2 separate regions of the Homo sapiens genome follow, and region 1 is linked to region 2. A link means that fine-mapping ties the variant in region 2 to the expression of a gene that starts in the linked region. Tissue or cell type: whole blood. Region 2 holds a variant in brackets; the other region holds the start of a gene. All regions are shown on one strand. Distances are between the middles of the regions.

Region 1 (8,104 bases), 24 kb before region 2:
CTGCAAAGCACCGATAGCTGCGCTCTGGAAGCGCAGATCTGTTTTAAAGTCCTGAGCAATTTCTCGCACCAGACGCTGGAAGGGAAGTTTGCGAATCAGAAGTTCAGTGGACTTCTGATAACGTCTAATTTCACGGAGCGCCACAGTACCAGGCCTTTAAAAAATTAATAAAGAAACTGTTACCAAAAACATAACTAGCACAAAAAGGTAAGTGGGCAGCTTCAAAGAAATGCAGTAATCTTTCAAAAAATAAGCCACCCAACAATTCTTCAGCTTCAGTATCAAATTTCACTGATCAACTTAAGATGTGAACATTCAAATCTAGTAACAATACCTTTAAAGCAAAAAGCATGAAATTAAAATGCATTCTTAGCAAGAAATTCATCAAAGCCCTATTTATTTTCATTTTAAAAAGTTATTCATGTATATAAACCTTGGGAAGGTATTAGCTGTCAGGCTAATGAAGAAGTTGGCTCCCCTCAATTTAGCACCACTCTCCTTCCCTACACCCTCTATTATCTTAAGAGCCCTTAAAGATGACCAACACAACCCAATGAACTTCATTTAAAAATCTGCTTGTGGCATTCAAGTTCTATTTCCCAGAATACCTCTACCCTGACTACAGTTCACCCCTCATCAACTATTAAATTTGAATACACCCGATTGTGCAGTGTTCCTTCCACGTGGAAAAGTTTTTTTTACTAAGTAATTGTCAGCAAGAAATTTACCTCTCATTCTGACTTATTTCTTCCACTGTATGAGCTTTTATTTTAGGTTAATCGTAATATTTGCGGAGGCTAAGTCTAGGCAACTTCTGCCCTCTAATGGCAGATGCCCTTAACAACACAGTGGCTCAGGTAGTTCACAATCAAAAGAGCTAATACAGAAGGAAATAAGCTAATCAAGTAAATGAGGGGGTAGGAACTTTATAAAACACCCAATCTCGATTATATTATTATTTTGCCAAAAACTAGGAAAGATAACCTCAAAAGTGTATTCAAGAAAGCAACACTTAACTATTTTTAAAGAATTACTAATAGTTAACTAAAATGTCAATATATCCCATTAACATTATCAGTGATATACGAGGTCTCCTTAGACCTCCAGGTAAGATTATGGCTTCAAAGTTAAACGTTTTCAATAAAACCTAATACTTAACTTTATATATAAATGATCATACAGTACATTTATTTAAGCAGTAGTTAAGTGTTCAAATGAAAAAAAAAAGTTTCTCTAAAGCAAAAAGTTTTCCTGTTATCCATCTTTTTGTTAAATTATGTGGATACATACAAGAGAGACTTTGTCCCATTTTTTTCCTGTTTTTTAATACCTGTAACGATGAGGTTTCTTCACCCCTCCAGTAGAGGGCGCACTCTTGCGAGCGGCTTTTGTAGCCAGTTGCTTCCTGGGTGCTTTACCACCGGTCGATTTGCGGGCAGTCTGCTTTGTACGAGCCATGGTACAGAGACCTCCTTACTTACCTACCAGCATTGAAAAATCAAAAATCACCATATGCAACTACCAAACATACAACTTTTCCTGCCACGATCACCCCCTCCCCAAATCTGGAAATTATGATCAGTATAAAAAATAATGTTCGTATTGTTATATAATTTGAAAGGGTGAAGATTACGTCTACCCAAAATCTCTTCTTGAAACAAACTAGAGTACTAGAAAATTGTTAGCAGTATCAATCACCTCTCAAAATGCCAATTCTGAGCGACAAACGGCAAAACAAAAATACCTCGAACGGCCTTTGATCCAATTTATTTAATTAAAGCAGTAATTAGAAATGTCTGTAAACATTCCATCCACAAACAAGTCAAAAGAAAAAAGGCACAAACCACTGGAAGGTCGAGTCAAATTACAGCAAAAAAAAGGTCTTACTCCCCCCCACTTTGGCTGCCCCCCCTTCGTCTGACTGTTGATGGATTGCTGTAAATATCTGAAAATATTCTTGGTTTTGCATCTTTACAGTTATGTTGACAAAAAGGCGTCTCGAAAAAACAAGAGAGGAACAACAGCTACCACCAGCGAGCATTCTACAAAGCCCCGTCCTCGCGTCCAGTCCTCACAGGCTTCGCAGTGAAATAAAAAGTGCCCCGCACCCAGGCTTTAATTAACGCACGACATCCGCCGACCGGTCCACCCCAAGCACCACATAAACTTTTGGTTTTGCCTCCTTCGGGTCCCTCGGCACAGGGTCCCCCAACCTGCCCGCCTCGCTCCCAGCGCCTCGAGCAGGAACCAACTCGGCTCCCCGACCAGAACAAAATGGAAACAATCGCAAAACGTATCCGATTCCGTTCCAAAGAGACAAAACACCAAATCGCTCGAAAATACCCCTATCCCCTGCCACGTGCCGCCCTCCAAAATGCAAAAGTTTTTTTTGCATTTCAAATGCATCAAGTTTCCGCCTCTCCAAAAAAGGGAAAAAAACGTCCCTCTTTTAAAAATTCTTGCTTTTTTGAAATGGGGAAGAGAGAAACGGGGGAAAAAATATGGTCGGTGACCAGAGAAGAGAGACAAGATGGTGAAGCTTAGCAACAACTGTGGGGAGGCAGCAAAAAGCGAGTTACCCCAGGGTGCGAAGCGGCGGCGATTTCCACCCCTTTCCCGCTCGAAAACTGGGGGCTGGGGCCCGGGGGCGGTAGTTAAGAGGCCCGCGCGGGTCATGGTGAAGGTTTGGGGTCCGGGGAAGGGGCGGCGGGCGGGATTTCACCGAAGAAAGAGGAGCCAGGGGCGCGGGGAGGAGGAGGGAGAGCAGGCTCGGCGCCGCGGCGGTTGCTGCTGTTGGGCTGAGGCGGCGAGAGACGGGGGAGCCGCCGCCGCCAGAGGGAACAGGGAAACTCGCTCCTCACCTCCATTTCTGGGCCAAAAAGTTTGTGGGCTAAGCCGGAGGGGCTATGGGTCCCCTCCCGGCACCGCCAGGGCCCGGCTCGGGGCTGACGGCAAGCGGGGCTCGGTTCCGGGGAAGCGGGCAGACGGGGAAACTTACCCCCCTTCTCCTTCGGCTGGAGCTCGGCGAGCGAGAGGCGGCGCTGGCGTTGGAGAGCGACGGCGGCGCGGCGGCGGCTGCGAACACAATTGAAAGATGGCTGACACCGAGGCTATCCCCCAACACACGCCGCCCCGCCCCCGCGCCGCGCGCCAGCCAATCACACACAATGGAGGGAAGGCTCGGCCCCGCCCCCATAGCTCCTCTCGCGCCCCGCCCCCGCCCTTCCCCCCGCGCGCCCGTTCGCTGGCGCGCGCTCGCCCCTCCCCCGCGCGCCGCCCGCTCCCTCCTCCAGGCCGCCTCGCGCCGTGTGTGTACAAACACAAAAGACACGCTGAGGGGCCGCCGGCTCCCGCCGAGACTGCCGCCCGCACCCGGCCAGCCCCCGCCCCCGGCCCTGCACTCCCATCCCGCTCCGTGTGCGCACGGCGTCGAACCCCCGAAGCCCGGGTTTGGGGCGCCCGGAGGGAAGTGGGGGGAGGGGAAGGCGGGCGGAGGCGCGGCGGGTGAACGCCCGGCCTGCGGGCGTCTCGGGCCGCGGCGGGGAGGGGAGGGAGGGGCTGCCCCCGCGCGGGCCCCGGCGCGCGCCCCCGAGGAGACCCGGGCGGCAGTGGGGGAGGAGGACGCGGTCGGCCGGGTCGCCGCGCCCCATTGGAAAACGCTCCCCAGCAGGAAGCTGGCAAATAGGAATCCAGCGTCCCGCGCCCGCTGTCGGACCTGGCCGCTGCGGCAGCGGGAGGGGCGGACCGACGGCCTCCTTCCCGCCTGCGCGCTCGGCCAAGTGCGGCCGGGTCCTGCGGGACCGGCCCGAGTCCGCCGTAGACAACTTGATCCGCTAAGACTCCTGGGCCGGCCGCCTGCGTGCAGGGCAGCCCCTCGCCGGTGTTGGCCTCCGGGATCAGGGGACGGGGCTCGCTCTCCTCCCGGGCCCGGGCCCCCGACGCAAGATGGCTGTGTCGCGTCGGCCTCTAAACAATGTGTGGAGCGCGCAGCTCCTGCACCAGGGCCTGGTGGCTTGTCCTGCCCGCCCGTGGGGGCCGTGTGATCTGTTTTCGGTAGGATTGCTTTGGAAAGGAATTGCCGAATATAGATAGTCAAATGTCCGCAGCTTCTGCATAGTTTAGAAGAGGCTGAAAACGGCAGAAAGAAGGCAAACGTGGTTTGGGAATTAGTACATATACCTGTTTTCCAATTCTCAGTAGCATAGGAAACGGACTTTTCATGGCCCAAGTTATCCTCACGACTTGTCAGTTGATTGGCTTTGGAACCTCTGAACCGTCCCTAGATGGTATTGACGCTTCACAACTGTGTGTAAAGGTTTTCAATGGAAGGGTCATGCAAATATCCCGTAGGGTAGTGAAGGAGGAAAATTTCATAAATGAAGGGCAGTAATTATTTGTAATCTGAAGATCTCACAAAGCGGCTTAGTGATAAACATTATCCCGAAACAGATACATGGAAATCAGATACGAGGGAAGAAATGGATTTGTCCAAGGTCACTTAAGTGAGGAAGAGACCTAGGAGAAACAAACAGACAAAAATCCAGGCCTCCCGTTTCATTATTATTTCATGAATGTTAAGTGTCCATGGTTGCTGTGCAGAACACATGCAATCTCTAATCCTATCCTAAAAGCACATATGCAATCAGCTTGGACCGAGCTGCCAGCAAAGAATTTCCTATAATTCAAGCCAAGATGAGTTATTTTGCTTGTTTTTTGTTTTGTTTTCAGGAAACCGAAATATTTATTGTTGGATTTATCCAGGAAGGCTGTTCTGCATTAGTTAAATGCATCATATCTTCAAGAAATGTTAAATGACATGGGTAATGTTTTCTTTGTATGCTGGATTTTTCAATAGCTTCTACTTCTTGGCTTTAAAAAATATTTCTAACCAAGGGTCAGACCATTTTAGGTAGAGTAATTATGATCTTAGATGATTTGAACTAACTCAGCTGTCTGTCCATTTGTGAAATGGGAATAATAATATTTATCTCTATGAAGTTAGGCCACAAATTCTTTCTAGTAGGTTCAAGTATTTAAGCACCTGGAGAGGTGACTGGTTACCCTCCTAGTGGCTTCAGGAAGTTTTCTCACTGAATGAATATTTATTGAGTGCCAACTCTGCTCAGCACAATTCAGGGGTGCTGGGAATGCAGCAGTGAATAACACAAGCAGTGTTCCTGCCCTCATGGGGCTTATGATCTCTGGAAGCACTGCTTTGCACAGGGAAGTAGCACCAGGAGGGGGTAAAGAAAGAGGGACTTTGGAGCCCCAAGATTGGCAAAAACTATAGCTAATGAGAGAGGTGAACTGTAGAGTCTAGATAATGGGGAAGGAGAGGTGCCAGAGCAAGAAGGGATTCTCACAGGGCCCTACGGGTCAGTCCTGAATTGGCTTTACTAGAACTCAGGCCCAGCACAATGGCTCACATCTGTAATCCCAGCGCTTTGGGAGGCCGAGGTGGGTGGATCACTTGAGATCAGGAGTTTGAGACCAACCTGGCCAACCTGGAGAAACCCTGTCTCTACTAAAAATAAAAATTAGCCGTCATGGTGGCACACGTCTGTAATCCTAGCTACTTGGGAGGCTGAAGTGGGAGGATTGCTTGAATTTGGGAGGTGGAGGTTGCAGTGAGCCGAAATTTTGCCACTGCACTTCAGCCTGGGCAACAGTAAGACTCCATCTCAGAAAAAAAAAAAAATAGAATTCTTGGGCTAATAATGGCCTCAACATTTGCAGTTAAAAAAGAAATGGGGAGGATGGGAGCAAAAGGTTTTAAGTTAAAATATTTTCCTTAGAATAGAGTACTTATGGCCATGAATTTAGATTTGTTTATAAGTAGAAAAGTAGAATGGAAAGGATTTTAAAAGCAACGCTATTCATATCTGCTTGGCTCCTGTCAATCAACTGCAAAGATTACTGCCTCATGGAGATGCTTCTGGTCACTGTAATGCTATCTCCATGCACACTTTATCACATTGATTTCACATCACCTTTTTATCACATTGATTTACATCTATCATTTGTTCACTTGCTTATTGTCCAGTTCCTCCCCAAAGAATATAACCTCTGAGGTAATGGTGGTCTTGTCTGTTTTTTCTCCTGTCCCTGATCATTTGCTGTACCTTTTTATTAGGTGATCTCATCCAGTTACATGGAAATTATCATGTAGAAAAATAGAATAAAACAATGAACCCCTTGTACCCATCTTTAGAAATTACTGACTCATGACCAATATTGGGTTCCCTCTATACTCTACTCACTTCTACCTCACCGATTTGAATTATTTTGAAGCAAATCCCAGCCTGCATTATTTCATCTGTAGATAATTTAGTATGTATCATAGGAGTCAAATAGATGATTGATGTGCCCCTTAAATCTCTTATAATCTACAGATTCTTTCTCTGTATTTGTACTTTGTTGAAAAATATGGATTGGCCAGGCGTGGTGGCTCACACTTGTAATCCCAGCACTTTGGGAGGCTGAGGTGGGCTGATCACTTGAGGTCAGGAGTTGGAGACCACCTTGGCCAACATGGCGAAACCCTATCTCTACTAAAAATACAAAAATTAGCCAGGCGTGGTGGCTCACGCCTGTAGTCCCAGCTACTTGGGAGGCTGAGGTAGGAGAATTGCTTGAACCCCAGGAGGCGGAGGTTGCAGTGAGCAGAGACTGCGCCACTGCACTCCAGTCTGGGCGACAGAGCAAGACTCCGTCTCAAACAAAAGAAAAATATGGATCATTTATCCTGAGGCTTTGGATCCACACTGTCTAAAACTGTCCTTTCCCTCAGTCTTGTCCAGTAAATAGCACTACCATTTACTCAACTCAAACCAAAAAGTACAGACAGCCTCCTTGAGCCTCTTTTTCTTTCACCCCGATAGCCAGTCTATTGGTCTTGCTCTGAAATGCTTATCAGAATGACCTACTCCTCTTCTCATCTCTTACCTGCCCTTCAACAGTAACTTTCTGTATGACCTTTCTCTTTCCACTCCTGCACCTCTGTATTTTATTTGCTACCAAGCAGACACAGATTAGATTATAGAATATAAATCAGATTAGGTTGCATTCTTGCTTAATCCATTCAGTGGCCTCCCACTGCTCTTGGTTAAATTCCACATGTGTGGGCCCTGGCATTACCCCTCTTTCCCCTCCGCACTGTGCTGCAGACTAGCCACCCCTGGTCCATCAAGTCCTCCTCTGCCTTAGGATCATTGCATCTGTTCTTTCTGAAGCTTGAATTCTCTTCCACCAGCTTTTGATAGGACTGTCTCACCATCTTCTAAGGCAAACTTTCTAACCTTTCCCATGTCATTTTCTTCTTAGAAAATGATCATATTTGGCCAGGTGCAGTGGCTCACACCTCTAATCCCTGCACTTTGGGAGGCCGAGGTTGGTGAATCACCTGAGGTCAGGAGTTCGAGACCAACCTGGCCAATATAATGAAACCCCGTCTCTACTAAAAATATAAAAAATTAGCCAGGCATGGTCGTGGGCACTTGTAATCCCAGCTACTTGGGAGGCCTGAGGCAGGAGAATCACTTGAACCCGGGAGGTGGAGGTTGCAGTGAGCTGAGATCACACCACTGCACTCCAGCCTGGGCAACAAGAGCGAAACTCCATGTCAAAAAAAAAAAGAAGAAAATGATCATATTTGTAAGTTGCACCGAGGATTAGTGGAGGGTATTTGGAGCCACTCATATGGAACTTGATTTTTAAATTTGGGCTTGGCATGGTAGCTCAAGCCTGTAATCCCAGCACTTTTTTATTTGTTTGTTTGTTTATTTTTTTTTTTTTTGAGACAAGAGTTTTGCTCTTGTTGCCCAGGCTGGAGTGCAGTGGCTCGATCTCGGCTCACTGCAACCTCTACCTCCCGAGTTCAAGCGATTCTCCTGCCTCAGCCTCCTGAGCAGCTGGGATTACAGACATGCACCACCAGTTCTGGCTAATTTTGTGTTATTAGTAGAGACCGGGTTTCTCCATGTTGGTCAGGCTGGCCTGGAACTCAACCTCAGATGATCCGCCTGCCTCAGCCTCCCAAAGTGCTGGGATTACAGGTGTGGGCCACTGCGCCTGTAATCCCAGCACTTTTGGGACGCCAAAACAG
Region 2 (8,104 bases):
GACTAAGTGACTTGTCCAAGGTCACAAAATAGCAATAATGAGGACTCAAACTAGACAGTCTGGCTCTAGTCAACATCCTTAACCCCTCATTAGCTTCGTGATAATAAAACCCAGCAGTGCTCAGCAGCCTAACTAAAAGAGCAGAGAAAACTCTTTCTTCATTAGAAGAGAACAAGACTATTCTTTATAAAATGTTTGTGAAAAGGAGTGATTGGTCTCTAGTTTGGGTGCCTAGCACAAGTCACCACCCCCTGGTTCACCAAGAAAACTGAGGGAATTAGGTATGAATTCTGCAGACCCTCCTGCCTGCAGACATCTTTGTCAGACCATTCTGCTGCCTTCCTCCTGTCTCAGAGAACTGGGTCTGCCCTTGCTTTAGCTCTTGATCTAGGTCCCTCCTGACTGTTTTGGGGGTTGCCTCGTTAGATGCACCCATCAGGGTCCTGGCAGAAGAGAGGTGGTGCACTCAAAACTTGGGCTGCCGAGCACCGTCAGAGTTTAAGCAGGGTTCGATGAAGAGCCCACCCACAGGGTGTAAGCAGAACAGGACAGGGTGTGTGGGCACAGGCAATAGCAAGGACCCACAAGGGGGGTAAACGGTGACCCTGGGGCCTGGCACAAGTGGGCTCTGTGGAGAGTGGGGGCCTGGGAGTGAGGTGGAGTAGAGTTGTATTTGACAGCAACAAGCCTTGCCGCTCTCTCTCCTGCCCATCCGTGGTGCAGAGGCTCCTGGAAGCTGGAGGGCAGTGGAGGCTGCCTGATGGAGTCTCCTGGAACACGGAGCAGTTGTGGAGAAGTGAGGGTCTTGGGTACACGGAGCATAGCCAGCGCATGGCTTCCCCGTCCTGTGTGCTCAGCCTCCCCTTCTCTGTTAGAATGCTGTCTTCTCTCCTCTGCTGACCCACATCTCCCCTTCCTTCCAGGGACAATTAATCTACAGAATAGTTTCTAATAATCGTCTCCACTTCCTTACTACCTATTAACTTTATTTATTTATTTATTTATTTATTTATTTATTTATTTATTGAGACGGAGTCTTGCTCTGTCGCTTAGGCTGGAGTGCCATGGCACGATCTCAGCTCACTGCAACCTCCGCCTCCCAGGATCAAGCAATTCTCCTGGGATTATGGCCAAACCCCATCTCTACTAAAAATACAAAAATTAGCTGAGTGTGGTGGCGGGTGCCTGTAATCCCAGCTACTCAGGAGAATGAGGCAGGGAGAATTAATTTAACCCAGGAGGCGGAGGTTGCAGTGAGCTGACATTGCACCACTGCACTCCAGCCTGGGCAATAGGGTGAGACTCTGTCTTCAAAAAAAAAAAAAATTGATGCAGAAGAACAATTTTTTTTTTTCTGGAGACGAAATCTCACTGTCGCCCAGGCTGGAGTGCAATGGTGCCATCTCGGCTCACTGCAACCTCCATCTCCCAGGTTCAAGTGATTCTCCTGCCTCAGCCTCCCGAGTAGCTGGGATTACAGGCATGCACCACCATGCCTGGCTAATTTTTGTTCTTTTAGTAGAGACGGGGTTTCACCATGTTGACCAGACTGGTCTCAAACTCCTGACCTCAGGTGATCCGCCTGCCTCAGCCTCCCAAAGTGCTGGGATTACAGGCGTGAGCCACTGTGCCTGGCCAACTTTTTAAAATCCTTATTGCGTTTTAGATTACAAGTACAACATTAAGTTATGTAAAATTTGAACACTACAGGCCGGTCGTGGTGGCTCATGCCCCTAGCACTTTGGGAGGCCTAGGCAGGCGGATCACCAGAGGTCAGGAGTTCGAGACCAGCCTGGCCAACATGGTGAAACCCCGTCTCTACTAAAAATATTAGCCAGGCATGGTGGCAGATGCCTGTAATCCCAGCTACTCGGGAGCTGAGGCAGGAGAATCGCTTGAATCCGGGAGGCGGAGGTTGCAGTGAGCCGAATTGTGCCACTGCACTCCACTCTGGGTGACAGAGCAAGACTCTGTCGCAAAAAAAAAAAAAAAAAAAAAGGCGCAGTGGTTCACACCTGTAATCCCAGCACTTTGGGAGGCCAAGGTGGGCGGATCACGAGGTCAGGAGATTGAGACCATCCTGGCTAACACGGTGAAACCCCGTCTCTACTAAAAATACAAAAAATTAGCTGGGCGTGGTGGCGGGTGCCTGTAGTCCCAGCTACTCGGGAGGCTGAGGCAGGAGAATGGCGTGAACCCGGGAGGTGGAGCTTGCAATGAGCCGAGATCGTGCCACTGCACTCCAGCCTGGGTGACAGAGTAAGACTCTGTCAAAAAAAAACAAAAACAAAAACAAAAAACTACAAAAGTATATAATATATAAAGGAGAGTCTTCCATTGAATTAACCCATACATACACTAGAAACCACCGCTGTCAAGAGTATGGTGCATGTTTGTCTAACTTGTAAAAAGTATATGTATGATCCGAATGACTGAAATAAAAAATAATGACACCATTAAATGCTGGTGAGGATAGAGAGAACTTTGATCACTCACATATTGCCAGTAGGAAAATAAAATGGCATGGCCACTCTAGCAAAGAATATGACTGCTTCTTACAATATTAAATATGCACCTGCCATATGATGCAGCAATTACACTCCTGGGCATCTACCCAGAGAAATGAAAGTTTTTATGTTCCTGGTCATAACTGTTCACAATAGCTTTATTCCTAATTGCCCCAAACTGGAAACAACTGAAATGTCCTTTAATGGTGGAAGGTTCAATAAACTATGGTACATTCATACCATGGAATACTACTCAGCAATAAAAGGGAAGGAATTATTGATACACATGACGATCTGGATGGATCTCCAGAGAATTTTGCTGAGTGAAAAAAGCCAATCTCAAGTTGCATACTGTGTGATTCGTTTTAGATAATATTCTTGAAACAATAAATGTATAGAGATAGAAAACAGATCAGGGGTCAGGTAGAAGGGAAGAGTGACTGTGGCCATAAAAAGGTAGCATAAGGGGTCTGTGTGGTGGAACTGTTCTTCATCTTGAGTTTGGTGGTGGTCACGTGAATCCACACATGTAAACTTGCTTAGAACCAAATACACACACATGAGTGGCTGGGTATGGTGGCTCATGCCTGTAATCCCAGCACTTTGGGAGGCTGAGGCAGGCATATCACTTGAGGTCAGAAGTTCAAGACCAGCCTGGCCAACATGGTGAAACCCCATCTCTACTAAAAATACTAAAATTAGCTGAGTGTGATGGCACATGCCTGTAATCCCAGCTACGCAGGAGACTGAGGCTGGAGAATCACTTGAACCCTGGAGGTGGAGGTTGCAGTGAGCCGAGATCGCGCCACTGCACTCCAGCATGGGCAGCAGAGTGAGACTCCATCTCAAAAAAAAAAAGAACTAAATACTAAAAAACTAAAAATTGATGACATCTGAGTAATGGCGAAGGGTTCTATCAATGTCAGTTTCCTGGCTGTGATATTGTACAATAGTTATATAAGATGTTACCATTGGGGGGAAATGGGTGAAGGGTACGCAGGATCTCTCTGCATATTTCTTTTTTCAATAAATTTTATTGAGATAAAATTCACGTAATATTTACCTTTTTAATGTGTAAAATTTAGTGGTTTTTAACATATTTACAAAGTTGTGCAACTTCAGCACTATCTAATTTTAGAACCTCTTCATCACCCCCAAAAGAAACCCTGTATCCATTATTAGTTACTCCCTGTTCCCCTCTCCCCCAGCTCCTGGCAGCCACTAATCTACTTTCTGTCTCTGGATTTGCCTACTCTAGATATTTCATATTAATGGAATCATACAATATGTGGCCTTGTGTCTGGCTTCTGTCACTTAGCACAAGGTTTTCAAAATCCATCTATTAATATTTTATAAAATGTGTCTGCACTTCATTTCTTTTTACAGCCAAATAATACTTCATTGTATGGGTCTACTTCTGCATTTTATTTATCATATTCATAAGTTGATGGACATTTGGGTTGTTTCTACTTCTTGGCTACTATGAATAATGCTGCTGTGGACATTCATGTACTAGTTTTTGTGTGAACATGTGTTTTTAATTCTCTTAGGTATTTATACCTAGGAGTGGAATTGCGGAGTCATATAGTAACTGTATGTTTAACTTTCTTTTTCTTTTTTTTTTTTTTTTGAGATGGAGTCTCACTCTGTCGCCCAGGCTGGAGTGCAGTGGCGTGATCTCGGCTCACTACAACCTCTGCCTCCCGGGTTCAAGCGATTCTCCTGCCTCAGCCTGAGGCCTGAGTAGCTGGGATTACAGGTGCACGCCACCACGCCCAGCTAATTTTTGTATTTTTAGTAGAGACGGGGTTTCACCGTGTTGGTCAGGCTGGTCTCGAACTCCTGACGTCGTGATCCACCTGCCTTGGCCTCCCAAAGTGCTGGGATTACAGGCGTGAGCCATCGTGCCCGGCCCTCTGTGTTTAACTTTCTAAGGAATCACCAAGCTTTTTTCAAAGGGGTGGCACTGTTTTGCATTTCCATAAGCAATGTCTGAGGGGTCTGATTTCTCCACATCCTTACCAACATTTGTTATTGTCTGGTTTTTTTTTTTTTTTAATTACAGCCATCCTAGTAAGTGTGAAATTGTAAGACATTGTGATTCTATATTATCTCCCTTTTTTTTTTTTTTTTTTTT[G/TG]AGATAGGGTCTTGCTCTGTCACCCAAACTGGAGTGCAGTGGTGTGATCACAGCCCACTGAAGCCTCAACCTCCCAGGCTCAAGTGATCTTCCTATCTCAGCCTCCCAAGTAGCTAGGGCTACAGGCATGTACCACCATGCTTGGCTAATTATTTTCTTTTTTATAGAGACAGGATTGTACTGTCTCTTATAATTGCATGTAAATTGGCCTGGCACAGTGGCTCACACCTCTATTCCCAGCACTTTGGGAGGCCAAGGTGGGTGGATCACTTGAGGTCAGGAGTTCGAGACCAGCCTGGCCAACATGGTGAAACCTGTCTCTACTAAAAATACAAAAATTAGCTGGGCTCAGTGGCACATGCCTGTAATCCTAGCTATTTGGGAGGCTGAGGCAGGAGAATCACTTGAACCCGAGAGGCGGAGGTTGCAGTGAGCCGAGATCGTGCCACTGCACTCCAGCCTGGGCAACAACAGTGAAACTCCGTCTCAAAAAAATTGAGCCACCACACCCAGATAAATTTTGTATTTTTAGTAGACACGGGGTTTCACCATGTTGGCCAGACTAGTCTTGAACTCCTGACTTTGTGATCCACCCGCCTCCGTCTCCCAAAGTGCTGGGATTACAGGCATGAGCCACTGCACCCGGCCTACCTGGTGTTTGTTAAATGAACACTTGGGTGAACTGAAAACACCCAGTGATGCTCCAGAAAGGAGCACAAGTGCAGTAGGAAGGGGAGGAGTTTTTCCTATTGGCAAGAGGCCTCATGGAGACTACATCATGGTAGAATTGGTAGAATTGGAACTGCTCTGTGAGCAGCAGAAAGAAGGAAAGTGAGAAAGGAAGAGGGAAAAACCTTGGGGCTATTCCCTGGGAGTCTTAGAGCCAGCAGGAGATTCTTCTTTCACTGCTGCCCACAGGCAAAGAGGGAAGTAAAAAGGTGAAGGAAGATACAGAGAGCTCCTCTGTCTCTGCTGTGCCTCCTTTGCTGAATTCAGCACCTACATGCTAAATGCAAAAGCCCTTTATTTACTCAAAAGAAGTTTGGACTCAATGGTCCCAAATGCTTGGCACCTCTTTCCTCCTCAGGTAGGATGAGAATCCCTCTGAACAAAGCTGGATAATGGCTTTACTATGTCCATGGAAATTTTCCCCCTGGGAATAATGCCTTTCTCAATTATATGGGCATTTTCAGTGTACACCTCTTTGGAAAAGGTCAAGAACAAGCCATATAAATACAATCTTTTCTAATTATACATTTATATTTGGGTAAAAGTTCTTTCATAGTAGGGATCAAAGAGAATATAGAACTTAAAGACAGAGAGAACTCTCCAGAAGAAAGTCTGAACTTACCTAACAAAAAGTTAGATGAACAGCATTGGTTGTTTTTTTTCCTTTTTTTGCTTATATATATTATATGCCTTACAATGAATATGTCTTACTTTCCTAATAAGAGAAAAAAGCAATACGTTTATTTAAACCCTAAGAATTGCTGCCGGGCGTGGTGGTTCACACCTGTAATCCCAACACTTCGGGAGGCCGAGGTGGATCGTTTGAGGCCAGGAGTTCATAACCAGCCTGGGGAACATAGTGAGACCCCGCATCTACAAAAAAAAAAACAAAGAAAGAAAAGAAAAAAACCTATAAAAATCCGGGTGTGGTGGCACACACCTGTGGTGCCAGCTACTCGGGAAGCTGTGGTTGGACGATCACTTGAGCCAGGGTCGAGGCTGCAGTGAGCTATGATCATGCCAGTGCACTCCAGCCTGGGCAACAGACAGAGACCCTGTCTTAAAAAAATAAAATAAATAAAATAAAATAAGATAAAAAAGAATTGCTCATTAGCGGACATGGAGTAAAGGTTATCAGAAGAAAAAGCAGAAGGGCTGAGGCCATCTTGCTCAGATTGGAGGCTTATAGGATAAGGGAGCATATTTGTTTCCTATGCTGCATAACGTATTACGACAAATGCACTAGTTTAAAACAACTTCCCTTTATTATCCCACACCCTGTGAGTCAGGGGCCTGGGCATAGTGCAGGCCGCAAGGCTGTCATCATGGTGTCGGCCGTGGCTCAGCTCCATCTGGAGGCCTGACTAGTGACAGATCTGCTGCCAAACTCATTCGGGTTGTTGGCAGAATTTGGTTCCTTGCTGCTGTAAGACCAAGGGCCTGGATTTTTGCTGACTGTTAGCTGCCCTTAGCTCTATGAGGCTGCTCACAGTTCCTGGCCATGTGGACCTCTTGATAGGTCCTCTTACAAAATAGCAGCTTGCTTCCTCAAAGCCACTAAGGGAGGAACAGAGCTAGTGGGGTAGAATTGTATATAATGTAATCTAATCACAGACTAACAGCCCATCACCTTTGCCATATTCTGTTGGTTAGAAGTAGTCTTAGATTGGGAGGCTGAGGCAAAAGGATTGCTTGAGCCCAGGAGTTAGAGGCTGTAGTGGGCTATAATTGCATCTGTGAACAGCAACTGCACTCTAGCCAAGGCAACACAGTGAGACCCCATCTCTTTAAAAAAAAAAAAAAAAAAAAAAAAAAAAAAAGAAAGAAAAAAACAAGAAAAAAAAAGAAGCAGTCACTGGACCCACCCACACTCAAAGGGAGGGAATTATATGATTATACAAAGGTGTGAGTTACTAGGAGGTGGAGATCATGGGGACCACTTTAGAGTCTGTTCCTTAAAGGGAGCTCAGAAATTCTTTTGGGATCCATATCCCCTTGTCATTCAGCATTCCAGTACATTCCAGTGGCTGTCCTACTGCAAGCACCTGGGATTCTTCACCTGACAGTTTTCCTTCCACCTGAGACACAGACATGCTGAAGGGTTACTGACCCTACGAGCAGGCCTCAGCCAATGATGGATGGAAACCGGAGGCTCCCCATCTTCCTCACCTCTTGGGTAGGAAAGCTCAGAGGCATGTTCTGCACTGTCTCCCAGGGTCCCCAGTAGGACTGAACCCCAGCTGCAGTTACACAGAAGCAACTTGCTTAATAATGTTCCTTTTCTTGGCTTCCTTCCCTTTCCTGCCTTACTTCCCCACTCTAGTCTTCCCGCAATCACCTCTTAAACAAACTAGTTGAATCTAGAAACAGAAAGTAGAGTGATTGCTAGGGGGTAGGGGAAGGAGGGAATGGGGAGTTATTTGGTTTAAGGTATACGGTTCAGTTTTACAGGATGAAAAGTGTTATAGAGATGGATGATGGTGATGACTGCACAACATTGTGAATGTGTTTAATATCACTGAATTGGACACTAACACTTATTAAGATGGGGCCGGGCACGACAGCTCACGCCTGTAATCCCAGCACTTTGAGAGGCCTAGGCGGGCAGATCATCAAGTCAGGAGTTCGAGACCAGCCTGACCAACATGGTGAAACCCCGTCTGTACTAAAAATACAAAAATTAGCGGGGTGTGGTGGCACATGCCTGTAATCTCAGCTACTCAGGAGGCTG

What was found. PIP is the estimated chance that this variant, and not a neighbour inherited with it, causes the effect.
Region 1: it holds the start of H3-3A, and the variant in region 2 is fine-mapped to the expression of H3-3A in whole blood (INTERVAL, PIP 0.99).

Annotation. Positions count from the first base shown.
Region 1 is chr1:226,057,706-226,065,809 of GRCh38, reverse strand. It overlaps H3-3A (H3.3 histone A), which reads right to left and starts at 3,094. Exons shown (of 4, transcript NM_002107.7): 1 at 2,999-3,094; 2 at 1,331-1,481; 3 at 1-154. The coding sequence starts at 1,458. It overlaps H3-3A-DT (H3-3A divergent transcript), which reads left to right and starts at 3,315. Exons shown (of 2, transcript NR_185887.1): 1 at 3,315-4,820. RefSeq lists an enhancer at 1,423-1,492 and silencers at 2,686-2,755, 3,374-3,539, 3,126-3,975.
Region 2 is chr1:226,033,334-226,041,437 of GRCh38, reverse strand. No RefSeq gene overlaps it. Among named protein-coding and RNA genes, the nearest start is that of H3-3A-DT, 25 kb to the left of the region's middle. The variant G/TG (reference allele first, on the strand shown) is at 4,645.